4 linked regions of the Homo sapiens genome follow. The protein of the gene in region 2 purifies or fractionates together with the protein of the main gene of each other region. This does not show direct contact. Each region holds a gene or a part of one and is shown on either strand. Other genes may lie near its edges.

The links. The genes of interacting proteins can lie anywhere in the genome.
Region 1: the proteins of DHRS4 (region 2) and NDUFAF5 purify together in Homo sapiens (affinity purification with mass spectrometry; one large-scale study listed by BioGRID and IntAct). This does not show direct contact.
Region 3: the proteins of DHRS4 (region 2) and CLPB purify together in Homo sapiens (affinity purification with mass spectrometry; one large-scale study listed by BioGRID and IntAct). This does not show direct contact.
Region 4: the proteins of DHRS4 (region 2) and HADHA purify together in Homo sapiens (co-immunoprecipitation; one large-scale study listed by IntAct). This does not show direct contact.

The regions. Positions count from the first base shown.
Region 1 is NC_000020.11:13,798,528-13,802,027, reverse strand, and holds part of NDUFAF5 (arginine-hydroxylase NDUFAF5, mitochondrial), read right to left. Parts: intron 543-3,500; coding exon 345-542; intron 211-344; coding exon of another isoform or gene 184-210; exon of another isoform or gene 155-183; intron 1-154. UniProt on the Homo sapiens protein: Arginine hydroxylase that mediates hydroxylation of 'Arg-111' of NDUFS7 and is involved in the assembly of mitochondrial NADH:ubiquinone oxidoreductase complex (complex I, MT-ND1) at early stages. May also have methyltransferase activity.
Region 2 is NC_000014.9:23,956,770-23,960,269, reverse strand, and holds part of DHRS4 (dehydrogenase/reductase SDR family member 4), read right to left. Parts: intron 369-3,500; coding exon 267-368; intron 1-266. UniProt on the Homo sapiens protein: NADPH-dependent oxidoreductase which catalyzes the reduction of a variety of compounds bearing carbonyl groups including ketosteroids, alpha-dicarbonyl compounds, aldehydes, aromatic ketones and quinones.
Region 3 is NC_000011.10:72,302,032-72,305,531, forward strand, and holds part of CLPB (mitochondrial disaggregase), read right to left. Parts: intron 931-3,500; exon of another isoform or gene 318-930; coding exon 273-317; exon of another isoform or gene 1-272. UniProt on the Homo sapiens protein: Functions as a regulatory ATPase and participates in secretion/protein trafficking process. Has ATP-dependent protein disaggregase activity and is required to maintain the solubility of key mitochondrial proteins.
Region 4 is NC_000002.12:26,234,633-26,238,132, forward strand, and holds part of HADHA (trifunctional enzyme subunit alpha, mitochondrial precursor), read right to left. Parts: intron 2,357-3,500; coding exon 2,223-2,356; intron 1-2,222. UniProt on the Homo sapiens protein: Mitochondrial trifunctional enzyme catalyzes the last three of the four reactions of the mitochondrial beta-oxidation pathway.

The DNA.
Region 1 (3,500 bases), on a different chromosome or scaffold from region 2:
TCCTATCATCTGGAATACTCTAAGGCCCTTTTTACACCTAATACTAGATTTGAAGATTCTAATGGAGTTGTATGTTTAGAAATTTGTCTTGTTAACTATGATACATTTTTTGAGCTACTTTTTAAGGTAACAGTAAAAAATTATACATTCCTACCTTGTGTCAATTAAGATGTGTTATACAAACTAAACATTGTCAATCAGAGCTTTTCCCTTAAAAAGAGAAAAAAAAAGGGAGAGAAAGAGTGCCATGAAACCATGAACACATACAGTTTTCTATCTTTAAAATGATAAGAAGTTCTTTTTTGAACTGTGTAAGTTATGGGTTAATCGAACTTGATAGTTACCACAGTCAGAGTATTAAAGCCAGCTCTCCCAAGCAGATGTCCCAGGTCATTGACAGCAGTGAAAGGAGAAATGTGTGGAGAAAATCCTCCTTCCCTTTCCGTTTCCGCTAACTGTAAGGAACACCGAAGTTCATAGAGTGTGTCGCCTCCAAACATTGCACCGATAAACACTCCATCTGGTTTTAAAATATAATGAATCTGTAATAAATACAAGAAAACAAAATGATTCAAATTTTTATATATATAAATGTTAAAAAATAAATATATAGTGTCTAAATTAACATTTTATGACAACCACTTTTATTCTGCCAAATTAATAATCACATAATTTAACAAATAACATCTAATGCAACCAACTGTCAGAAAATCATGATGCATAATATACTTGGAAAGACAACTATACATTCACTAATATTAATGCCTATAAAAATATGTTGTATGTTTTCAAGTTTTCTAATAGGTATACAACTTAGTTTTATAATCAGAAAAATGCTGAAAGAGAAAAAAAAATTTAATTGGGGTAGGCTGCAAAAATCACAAACCTCCCTGCATCTATGGCCTCTGAAACGTCGTTTTCTAACAACTTTCATCAAGATAGGGAGTCTATTTCCCCTCCCCTTGAATCTTGGCTGGCCTTGTGACTCGCTTTGGCCAAAAGAATGCAGTGGAAGTGACAGTGTGCCAGTTCCACGTCTAGGTCTCAAATGTGTTGCATGCTTCCACCTGCTCTCTTGGAGCCCAGCCCAGCCACGATGTGTGAACAAGCCTGAGCTAGCCTAGAGGAGGAGGAGAGATGTAGGGCAGAGATCAGCCAGCTGTGTGCACCGAGGCCCTCCAAACCAGCTAGCTCCCAGACGATCTGGCAGCTGATCACAGACACACAGATGAGCCAAGCCAGACCCAGATTTCCTAACCAAATCCAGCCCCAACTGCCAACCCACAAAATCATGGGCTACATAGTTGTTGTTTTAAGCCATCAAGTTGGGGTGCCTTATTATGCAGAAAAAGCTACAGAGAAATCATTATGATTCACAGCATTAACCTAGTAACATATTACCTTTCGTTAAAGAGAAGTAATCAATTTATTTTCCAGCTTTAAAACAAAACCAATTTCTAATTAGTAACTTAAGGAAAATAATGGCCAGAGAGAATTCCAGAATCACAGATTTTGCTCACTCTCAGACTACAAGCTGTAACTAGTTTGATTGACTATTCTCAGCAATGAGGACCATTACAGGAAAAGGTAGATTCTGAAGTAAACCAGAATCCAAATCACAGTAGGCTCTTCTAATAAAAGTACTGTCTTAAATTTATATTTAATATGTCATGAAGCAATTAAAAGCAGTATTAAGTAAATAATTTGTAAAAGCTTTGGTTCCTTCCCTTCTTCACCTTTAGTGTTGCTTCCTCCTCCTGTCATCAAACTCTACTAAACCAAATACCTAAGACTTAGTTCTCAGAATTCTGCAGCTCCCCGCTCTCCCTCAGACAGCTTATCAACTTCCATGATTTCACAATGACCACTTTCCAATCCCTAACTTCAGCTTGGCCATCTTCTCAGAAGTCCAAAGTCATCTTCAACTGCCTATTCCCTGGACATTTGTCTCTCAGCATACTCACCGTCCCTGCTCCCTCCAACCCCTACAAGGAAAACATCTATTTATCAAATCAATTCCCCTTTCCAACTGCCATATTTCTATTGCCATTTTCTATTCCCTTTATCTGATCATTAACATTCTTTCCCCTACTTTTACTAATCCAGACTCAAAAACTTCAAAGTGAGTTTTGCCTCCTCCCTTTGATCTTCAGATCTAATCAGTCACCAAACTGTTGATTCTTTCCTTGTAGAGTCCTAAATACTCTTCCTTTTAACTCCTACCATTACCACCTAGGTTTAGTTTATCTCATTCTTGGACCACTGAAACAGTCTCCCTTCAATTTAACGAACTGCTCCAGGCATCAGTTTCTTTCTTTTTTTTTTTTTTGAGACAGAGTCTCACTCTGTCGTCTAGGCTGGAGTGCAATGGCGTGATCTCAGCTCACTGCAACCTCTGCCTCCCGTGTTCAAGAGAATCTCCTGCCTCAGCATCCCAAGTAGCTGGGATTACAAGCACCTGCCACCACACCTGGCTAATTTTTGTATTTTTAGTAGAGGCGGGGTTTCACCATGTTGGCCAGGCTGGTCTCGAACTCCTAACCTCAGGTGATGCAACCACCTCAGCCTCCCAAAGTACTGGGATTACAGGCATGAGCCACCACGCCCAGCCGAGGCATCAGTTTCTAATCAGCAAAATAAATACATCTCGCAGAGCTATTTAACACAAATATAAAACAGAGCACAGTAACGGGAAACTGGAAAATCATACGTGTTCAGATATGGCCATTATTATTTTGCCCACCAGCTTTATAATGATGTCATTTTCCTCTTCAAAATGCTCCAGTGGCTCTGAATTGCATAAACTCCAAATTCCTCAACCTGACACTCAAATCCTCCTAAATACTGTCCCAATACATCACACCTCACTTCCCAGCACTATACTAGTCCTCCAAACAGGTTTCCTTTTTGTTCCTTAATGCTGATGAAGCTCTTGTGCCTCTCCACCTATCCTGTGATTCTGCCTTCTTAGAATGCCTTCCCAATCCAAACTTTACCTACCCTCTAAGGCCCTGCTCAAGTACTTTCCTCTTGAAGCTTTTCTAGGCCATGTCAAGCCACAGGGATCTTGTTCTCTCCTTTGAACACATACTTTTTACCTGCCTCTCACCTGTCTATTGATACGTGTCAATCGATAAAAACTTACCTAGCACTCTCTGAGTATAAGGCATGGAGAAAATACAAATATAAATAAGTAGGTTCCTACTTGCAAAAAGTTTATGGGCAACTAAGGGTAAGAAGAAATCTACATAGAGAATGTCTTATGATTTCAATATTATTTTGCACAGTTCCTAAGCTTTTCATAAATATTTAAAACTTATCTCTACAATTAGATTTCTTAAATTCTCAGGGAAAGGAGAGTTGCCCAATGTACTACTAATATGCCAAATGGCACCAGATGATTTCACCGATTTCTTTCCCAACTGTCAGACCTACAAGTAAATAGTATGTGAAAATAGAAACATCTGTAGATTTCTAACAATAAAGAAAATAACACAAGA
Region 2 (3,500 bases):
AAAAGCCTGGGGAGAGGAGCAGACTGTGGCTAGTGAAGAGCAGATAGAAGCAGAGAGAACTAGGAGTAGCAGAAACGAATGAGAAGGGCAGGGATAGAGCCACCCCCACCCGCCCTTTGCAAGGTGTGCTCCAGGTGTGTGGCACGTGGCAAAGAGTCCTCACATTTACACTGCCCTTGAGAAATGCATTCTAAAAGCAGATGGAGTTTGTGCTGAATGTGTTCCAAGGCGCCCCCCCCGGCCCCCCTGCTTTAATCCCCTCTCACCTTGTCCCACACCTCCTCAGTGACATCCATTATGCTTCCAAAGAAAGGGTTGACAGCAGCATTGGAGACTAGGATATCGATACCTCCATGAAGCTTCACAGCCTAGAGAGAGGGGTAAGTTCTGGACCAGGGCTGCAGTAAGTAAGGGAGGTGCATTTACCCATGTTGATAAAAACTTCCTTCTGGGCAAGGAGCTGTGGCTCATGCCTGTAATCATGGCACTTTGGGAGGCCAAGGTGGGAGGCTCACTTGAGCTGAGGAGTTTGAGAGAAGCCTGGGCCATGCAGCGAGACCTTATCTTTATATTAAAAACAACAACAACAATGACAACAAAATCTTCCTACTTAGGAACTATCGTCAAAATAACTTCTATTTCTTAAAACATCTTTTTTGAAAACTACCCTAAGATCTGCCGCTAACCATTTAAGGTTGGCTTCTTTCTTTTTTAGACGGAGTCTTGCTCTGTCATCCAGACTGGAGCACAGTGGCATGTTCTCAGCTCACTGCAGCCTTGACCTACTGGGTTCAAGCCATCCTCTTGGCTCAGCCCCCCAAGTAGTTGGGACTACAAGTGCGTGCCACCACACCCGGGCAATTTTTGTATTTTTTATAGAGACAGGGTCTTGCCATGTTGCCCAGGCTGGTCTGGAACTCCTGGGCTCAAGCCATCCACCTGCCTCAGTATCCTAAAGTGTTACAGGCGCGACCCACCAGGAAGTTGGCCCTATTTCTTTTGCAGTGTTTTCTTCCCACCTCCTATTCTTCCAAGGCTGTCTCTGACGCTCTTTTCTTTACACTTCCCCTTTGGGAAGCTCCTTCATTCTCATGATTTCAAGTCTCACCCCAAAATCTATTTCCAGACCCCTCCTCTTCCTTTCACACTGAGTTCCACCCACATTTCTCCAAGTGCTTACTGTCCAGTTCTCCTTGAATAAGTTACCATTATCTCAAAGTCAATCTGTCCACACTTACCTGAATGGAAAAACTGGCTTAAATAGAGCTGTAGAAAGTTACCCTGGAGGGGCCTTTGAGATCATCTATTCCAGTGTCCTTAAGGTGGAGATGATGAAATAGGTTCAGAGAATTTTCTCAAGATCTTATAGTTCAGTAGTGGCACACTGGGGCTAGGTAAGAACAGGAGGCCTGCTTATTCTGTGTTTGGGAGGGGTGAAGTGATGTTTTCAGGGCACAAAGCTAGTTAGTGGTGGAAGAACTGAGGTCAGTCTCCCACTTTGTAGCACAGAGCTAATTCATAAGAGCCCTCTGAAAGTGAGTTGGGGTCATCAGGAAACTGGTTGCCCAGGAGAGCCGTGATGGGAGAAGATACCAGCCTGAATTTAAAGCAATTCCATATTTGGTTATGATGTCATTTTCCCTGTCTCTGTCTCTCTCTTTTGACCTGGAGGCATGAAAGATTCAAGGCAGAAACTGAAATTTAAATTGAGAAGGCGAAGAAAGGCAACATCTCACCTCCTTAATAAGTTATAAGTAGATAGTGAGGCCTGTGCTAGAGTAATGAATGGCCAAGCAGAATCTGCCAACAAGGGTTTTCAGTACAAAGCCACCCTGAAACCAGACTTTCCGTTTGCCCGGAACTGGCAATTTTGATGCCTTGGGCAAGTTGCAGTACACGGGCCCTCGGTCAACTTTGTGCTCCGGATTTGGCACACAGAGGGGTGTTACTAACAATGTACACCATCTGCTAGCTTCCCGTTTTAACTAATTATTCTTGTTAACTAGGTGCTAAGCTCAGTTGTTTCTAGACAGTTGAAGGAATGCTGGGCTGTCAATGTGTAAATCTAACAAAATTTACAGTCACATAATCTTTTAAAACCAGTATTAATACTTTCTTGCACCCTTTAAATTTTGGTATCCTGGCACAAAGCCAAGTCACCTGCCTTGGCTCTGTGTAAGTCTCACCAATGGACTTGTTACTAGGGAGGTGCAGAGTAAGTTAATAAGTGATGTGCGCCGTGCTCAGTACACATGTGTTTGGGCTGGGAGGAGACAATGGATTGCTCTAGAATCACCTGGAGACATTTTCTACTCTGCTGTATACCCCATACTCCTCTCCTTCCAGGTCTGTCAGCACAGAGATGGGAGGAGGCTGGGTTTTGATTGAACAGAGACAGCAAACCATAAAAGATGAATGAGGCTGGGTGTGGTGGCTCACACCTATAATCCTAGCACTTTGGTAGGCCCAGTGGGGAGGACCACTTGAGGCCAGGAGTTCAAAACAGCCTGGGAAATACAGCCCCAACTCTACAAAAAATTTAAAAAATGAACTGGTGTGGTGGTGCATGCCTATAGTTTTAGCCACTTGGGAGGCTGAGGTGGGAGGATTGCTTGAGTTCAGGACTTCGAGGTTACAGTGAGCTATGATCATGTCACTGCACTGCAGCCTGGGCAACAGAAGGAGGCCCTGTCTCTGGAAAAAAAAAAAAAAGGAAAGTCTTCTAAGTCTTATTCTAAATTGTGTGATCACTACACCAAAGCGGTTAGGAGCTGTTTGTTCTGTGTTCTGATAGTTATACATTTTTAAGAAAAAATATAATCAAGGAGATAGGCAGCTACTCTGGTTTCCACTTACAACACCAGTGAGAAGCTTCGTGGTGTCCAGATGAGGAGGCCACTGGGTAGTATCCATTCTCAGGAAAGTGGCTTTTCTCATTGCAGGGTAACATGTGGCAACTGGCAGAAGACATTTCAAATTGCTGACAAGTATTCTATCATTCTCCTCTCTGACAATGGTCATACAAACTACTTGAGAGTCATTTTTGACTTCTCTATTTCCCACTTTTTGACATGGGGTTGGAAAATCTTGGTTCGTTTCCACTGAATGTCTCTTGGGCACATCTATTCCAGTCCCACCGCCACTGCTCTAAACCTGGAGGACAGCAACAGCTTCCTCACTGATGCCCTGGATTCGGTGTCTCCTCTGTATATCCTTCCTACCAGAGCCAGATTAGCTTTCCTAATAACCATCTTTCTCTTGCTCAAAACCTCACATGGCTTCTTATTTGCTACAAGGGTGTGTAAACATATCCTTTTAAGAGGCCATATCCTTTTAAGGTCCTTAACGTATCCTTTTAAGAAGCTATGGCCGGGCACAGTGGCTCACGCCTGTAATCCCAGCACATTGGGAGGCCGAGGGGGTGGATCACCTGAGGTCAGGAGTTCAAGACCAGCCTGGCCAACATGGTGAAACCCTGTCTCTACCAAAAATACAAAAAT
Region 3 (3,500 bases), on a different chromosome or scaffold from region 2:
ATGGGAAGATGACTTTATACGCTATTAAGGTTGCCTCTCTCAACAGAGATGATTGGCTGTCCATCTCCTGGTGTGGCAGATAGATCTTCTCTATGTTTATTCTTCAGAGCAAATCCTATGTGAAACAAATCAGTGACCCTGCTGCACACCTGTGCTCCCAACGACAAATCCCAAGGCTGCTGGAATTATCTGAGGCCCAAATGACAAGACCCCGGCAGTCATGCTGACAAGCCCTCCAAACCATGCTTCAATCAAGGACTGTCATCACTCACCTCGTGTCGCTCCTGGAACTCGGACATGTCCAGCCTGATGAAGCCCTGTGTGGAAACAAGCAAGTACCAACTCCGTTTGGAGGCAGGAAAGTGAAGAGAAGGGTTAGGGAGGAGAGCACCTCAACTATCCCCAAGGCTTTCACACCACACCAACATAAGATCTTCTATCTCACGCTCAAGATGTTTTTTTCTGACTTCCTGTCTCCTTTTCTGTGCACTCATTTCCTACGAGTCCCTCATTCTCTTCCTTAAAAGACCCAAATCATGTACCTGACCTTCTAAATCTGACTTGGGGTGTCTTCTTTCAGGGAGGCCTCTCCTGTTCTGATCACCACATCATCCACCCACCCATCCATCCATTCCACGTTTCCTGAGGGCATCCTGTGTGTGCTGGACACCGGAGTTACAACAGGGAACAAGTCTTGGTCTCTGTCCTTAAGAAGCACCCCATCGAATGGTGCAGACATGGACAAAGTCAGTCACGATCAGTGTGGACTGTGGTGCGAGGGAGGAGAGAAACACTCAGATGGCTCCAGAATGCCTCTCAACTCTGCAAGTCTGTGTGATGCCCGTGTCCCTTTGATTTACTTTTCTTCAAAATGAATATATTTTAAAATGTATTTACATTTCTTCATTTCATTAAAAAAGATATCCATAACATAGCTTTACAGCCCTTTTCTCTCCACCACAGGGTGTAGGGGTGATTTCCGAGGAAGTGGCCCCATGGGTGAGGGCCATGGTTAGCCCTTGGGGAAGAGAACAGCTTGCATTATGTGATCTGAAGAGTTAACACAGGCAGAGTGCCCACTGGTTTTCAAGAAGCATTACCTGATTAGGGAGCTGTAAAGGCATCCACAGGTGCCCTGTCTAGCCACAGCCAGGACCACAGTTCCCCACAGTCCCCCGGGCTCCTCTCCTACTGGCACATGCCTCCATCTAAGAGACAGCATTCACTGAATCCTGCTTCTCCTGAGAGCCGGTGATGATGGGGGTGCCAAGATTCTCAGCGGGAGGTAGCTATGTCTGAAATCCAGGGCTATATTCTAGCTTGGCCACTGGTCAGAAATTCACGCCATGATGTACTTTTAGTTCTTTCTCTGTCCTGTCATTCTACAGCTGAGACACAGGGTGGCAAGAAGAACCCTGGGCTGGGAGCCAGGGGGCTCGGGTTCCAGTCCTAGTTCTGCCTGCCTGTGGAGCCTTGGACATGCTGCCTCCCCTTTTTGAGCTGCAGTTTTGTCCTGTGTTACAGAAGGCTCTTGGCTCCTCTCCCTGCCTCACCAGGGGTCTGAGGATCTAATCCAAGAGGTGGGACAGGGCTTAGAGAAGTTATTAAGGCCACATGGGGGAAAGCACTGCTATCAGCACATGGGGCATAAGCCAGAAAGCATTTCCAGAGGGTCCCTAGGCTGCTCAGTCAAGAGATCTGCAGGTTTCAGGATTTACTGGGTATTTACTATGTGCCTGGCAATGTTTTAGGCAAGCTATAAAGGGCTTAGAACATGTACAAGTCTCTGAGGTAAGCACTACTATCATCTCCACTTTACAGATGAGAAAACTAAGTCACAGATTAAAGTAACTTGCTCAAGGTCACCTGCGCTTGGCAATTCAGCTCCAAGTCTGTGCTCTTAGCCATCATGCTACACTGCCTCATAGCTTCCTCTCTGCCAATCAGCTGGGCTCTTGACAGTCTTCACCTTGAAGGGTGCTGAGCTTTGTGTCCAGATGCCAATGAATGTCGGACGACAGATGGACTATAGACTCTCGTGCTTACTTATGTCAAGTGACCTGGGTTCTCACCCTAGTTCTTCTAATGATTTGCTATGTAATTTTGAACAAGTTTTTGGGCTTGACTTTCTTGGCCGGAATCATCATTTTGATTTCACATGATCTTAGTGAGGCAAGAACAATAAGAGTAACATCCAACATGTACTGATTGCTTACCACATGCCAAGAACGGCGTTTAACATTTTACATCACTATCTCATTTAACCTTCCGAACAATCCAGTGAGACTGGCACCATTATGGAGCCTACTTTACAGATGAGAAAGCTGATGTAAACAGAGGTCCTGGCCAACTCCACCTAGTAGAGTACAGTTGGGATTTGAACCCAAGCAGCTGGACTCAGATAGTTGTTCTTTATCCCTTATCATATTGCTACTATAACTAAGTCTTTTGGGCTCCACCACCCTACCTTATGATGATATCACAGAACACCATTAAGGTTCCTTCCCAAGGCTTATTAGCTCTAGTAAGGAAAGTTAACAGAGCCACTCAATTTGGAAGAAATAGTATACAGGCTAATGAGAGAAAAAAATAAGTTCACAGATCTGATAAAGAAATCATATAAATGTACAAAGAATGCTTCTGAAGCAGCAAGATCTGGAGGTGTCAGTGTCTCTTTACAAATGAAGAAACTAGGGATCAGAGAGCCAGAACTAGAATTCACATCATCAGACTCCAGGCCAGTGCTCATTTCATTTCGTCAGCTGTCTTGGGAGGCAAATTAAAGGGAGCTTCTGTTTGGTAAAAGTCTATTTTACACTGGGCTCTGAGAATGACACTTTCCATACATCACTCTTTGGGTCCCAGGTACACTGGCTACGTAGCTTAAAGTCCAGGGCTCTCTTGGATTTTGAAGGCAGGTCTCAAACATGCCTGTCATGTGGCTATAAAGTGTCTACGCAAAACACAGATTCTATAATGAGTTGACCCACAGGGCTAGCACAGGCAGGAGTTTCATAGAAGCACCACCTATGATTTAAAAATAAAATACATGGTTGTTTTTATGGAGCTTCTCATGCCTCTCATCTCCCAATGTGAAATGGGGACACACTGGCAAGTTTCCAATCCAGCTTCCTAGAGCAGCTGAGAACAACGGTATCACAGTGAGGAGTTGAGAGACTGGATTGATTCTGGTTTTATTTCTTCCCCTAATAGGTGACCTTAGATAAGCCTAAGAATGCTGTAGGGCCTCAGTTTTCTCATCTGAAAAGTGGGTCTAATTTAGCATCCATGCTATCTTCCCCATAGGATCAAATGGGAGAGTAGATGGGGCACTGCTATGGTAAGTAGGAAGTGACGAATAAATACAAGTCAAGGAATAGGCACTTGCTGTGTGCTCACCATGATGTGATGACATAAGTGATGAGCACACAGCATCGTCACTTGATGCTCACCATAACCTAAGATATGGGTTGGAGGGCTTTCACCTTGAGGCAAGAGAG
Region 4 (3,500 bases), on a different chromosome or scaffold from region 2:
GCGGGCGCCTGTAGTCCCAGCTACTTGGGAGGCTGAGGCAGGAGAACAGTGTGAAACCGGGAGGTGGAGCTTGCAGTGAGCCGAGATCGCGCCACTGCACTCCAGCCTGGGCGACAGAGTGAGACTCTGTCTCAAAAAAAAAAAAAAAAATTCTGGATCCAGAAAACATAAATGTGTTGCATAATTTATTTTTACTTCTGTAATAAATCATTAAATTACAAAGCTTGGTACAAGGGAAAATCATCTTTGGTAAATTACTTCACTATCAGATTAAACATTTCACTATCAGGTAGTTAACAGCAATAAAAATGACGCAAAAGAAAAGCTTCCAGGTTGTTTAGAGAAATCTAAAACATTTTAACAGATCCCACTAATGAATAAAAATGACCAGGTAGGCCAGGCATGGTGGCTCATGCCTGTAATCCCAGCACTTTGAGAGGCCAAGGCAGGTGGATCACCTGAGGTCAGGAGTTCGAGACCAGGCTGGTCAACATGGTGAAACCGCGTCTCTACTAAAAATACAAAAATTAGCTGGGCGTGGTGCTGCATTCCTGTAGTCCTGGCTACTCGGGAGGCTGAGGCGAGAGAATCACTGGAACCTGGGAGGTGGAGGTTGCAGTGGGCCGAGATCGCACCACTGTACTCCAGCCTGGACAGCAGAGGGAGACTCCGTCTCAAAAATAAATAAGTAAATAAAAATGATCAGGTGCAATGATGTTCCACTCAATGTCCTTTAATTTCAGTTTGTTTCATTTGCTATTTTGTGAACACACTTAGGATATGGATTTTGTACTTTTGACCAAGGATAACTAGTATATTCTGTAATTTTATACACTGAGAGTTGCTCAGCTGGCCTCATAGAAGCTACATGTATTTTCCTCTGGATATAGGTAGCTACTGCCAGGTACATCAGTGTCTTGTTAGACTTTATAAATGTTCTGTTTAATGTTAATTTTTTAGAAGACCCAAAATTATCTTATCAAGTGGTTTTTCTTCTAGCTGAATTATTTGTGCCTAACAAGAGACTGATTACTACACATAAATAATTACACTTTCAGTACAAATTACTAAACCTACAATGCTGGCTATCATTGTCTAAAATACAAAGAACATAACAAATACCCATATTTTAATGGAATTGACAACTTAACATTTTAACCTATTAAACTGACACTAAAATATCATTTCCCCTCCTTATGTATGTGTAAACAATTGTAAATAAGTTAATGTAGGCATGCATTCCACCATTTAGCAGAGGAAAAGAAAATACTAGCTGCATCTGTAAAGCTGCCTTTAACAATCAAGTCCTACCACCCACTTCATTTCCCCAAAGCAGCCATCTTCATGTTTGTAGTGTCTCCTTCCAGACCAACTACGATTGTGTCCATAAATAGTATCAAGAATTATTCCATGTTTGGTTTTAAAACATTTATAGAAACTATATACTGTATGAAACATTCTGCAATTTGCTTTTCTTTTAACTTAACCTTATGTTTTTGAGTTCTAACATCATATTGTGGATCTAGTTAATTCCTTTTACCTGTTTTGTAGTATTCTATTGTGTGAATAGTCCACATTTTACTTACCCATTTTCCTACTGACTGACATTTGGTTTTAAATTCTTCATTATTTCACACTACACAGGACCAAACATCCTTGTACACTGGTTCTTATAAACAAGGGGTGAGATTTCTCTAGATCACATGATGTGTGTGTGTGTGTGTGTGTATATATATATATATATACTCTGTGTGTGTGTGTGTGTGTGTGTGTGTGTGTGTGTGTGTGTATATACTTTTTTTTTTTAAGACAGTCTCACTCTGTCACCCAGGCTGGAGTGCAGTGGTGTGATCTCGGCTCACTGCAACCTCTGCCTCCCAGGTTCAAGGGATTTTCGTGCCACAGCCTCCTGAGTAGCTGAGATTACAAGCGTGTGCCACCATGCCTAATTTTTGTATTTTTAGTGGAGACAGGGTTTCACCATGTTGGCCAGGCTGGTCTTGAGCTCTTGGCCTCATGTGATCCACCTGCCTCGGCCTCCCAAAGTGCTGGGATTACAGGCAAGAACCACCACACCCAGCCTGATACGTACATTTTCAATTTTACAGGCCTGTGTCACTGTGCCCAGCACTTCTACTTTCTTTTAAAAGGAGAAATTATTAGGCCTAAGAAACACACTATTAACCAAGATAAAAGGTGACTTCAAGTTTCCTAAAACTTACTTGATATCAGCACCTGCAATAAAGCAGCCTGGCTTTGATGAGATAAGGACGGCACTTCTGATTTGATCACTAGCCCAGATTTCATTCATAACTTCTGAGAACTCTGAATGTAGCTCTTTACTCAGTGTATTTACCTGCCAAAGGGAAATATATACAGGTAAGGGTTTAAATTTGAAGCACTGGATGTACGTACCACCATCAAATGCTATTTTGATTATAAGAAATATACTTATCCGGCAGAAATATACTGTTAGAAGAGAGTAAGAAATATCATTCTCCCAGCAAGTCAGTAGCTTTCTATTCAGGCAGCTTTGGCCCACTACAAGCACCCCTTCCTTTAAAAATAGGTCTTCTCAAAGGAGAAACTCAGGGTCATCCTCAGAGTTTGAATCATATGTAGGCTATAAACAAATAGGTCTACAAACATTTATTGGCATGGAAAAAATCTGCATAATGTTAAGAAAAAAATGAAATACAAATAAGACATATAGGCCAGGCATGGTGGCTCATCCCTGTAATCCCTGCACTTTGGGAGGCCAAGGTGGGCGGATCACTTGAGTTCAGGAGTTCGAGACCAGCCTGGGCAACATAATGGAACCTTGCCTCTACAGAAAATACAAAAATTAGCCGGGCCTGACAGCACACGCCTATAGTCCCAGCTACTCAGGAGGCTTAGGTGGGAGGATCACCTGAGCCTGGGGAGGCTGAAGCTGCACTAACCTGTGACTGTGCCACTGCACTCCAGCCTAGGCAACAGAATGAGACCCTATCTTCAAAAAAAACCATATAGTATGATCTTAGTTTTGTAAATATTATTCATTGAAACTGAATTAAATGTGATTATCCCATGGAAGATACCAAGAAAAAGATGTGGTTATCTTTAGGTTTGAATTATGAATGTTTATTATTTTCTTCTTTATAATTTTTTATAGTTGAAAAATTTTCTACCATTGACATATATTACTTTTGTGTTCAGGAAAAATGTCCAACCTAAGAAAATTCTGAAAAAATATCTTAAGCTTGAATCATTGGTTAGTGAGTGCTAAAATTTACTCTAGTAAAGGGGAATGGCTCTTATTTACCTTAATTTGTGATAGTTGTCAACTGCTTCCATCTAGGTCTTATTACATCTAAGCCTCTGGCTATAAGTTTGTTGTTGTTGTTTTTTAGAGAGACAAGGTCTTGCTCTGTGGCCCAGGCTGGAGTGCAGTGGTGCAATCATAGCTCACTGTAACCTTGAATTCCTAGGCTTAAGTGATCTTTCCACCTCAGCCTTCA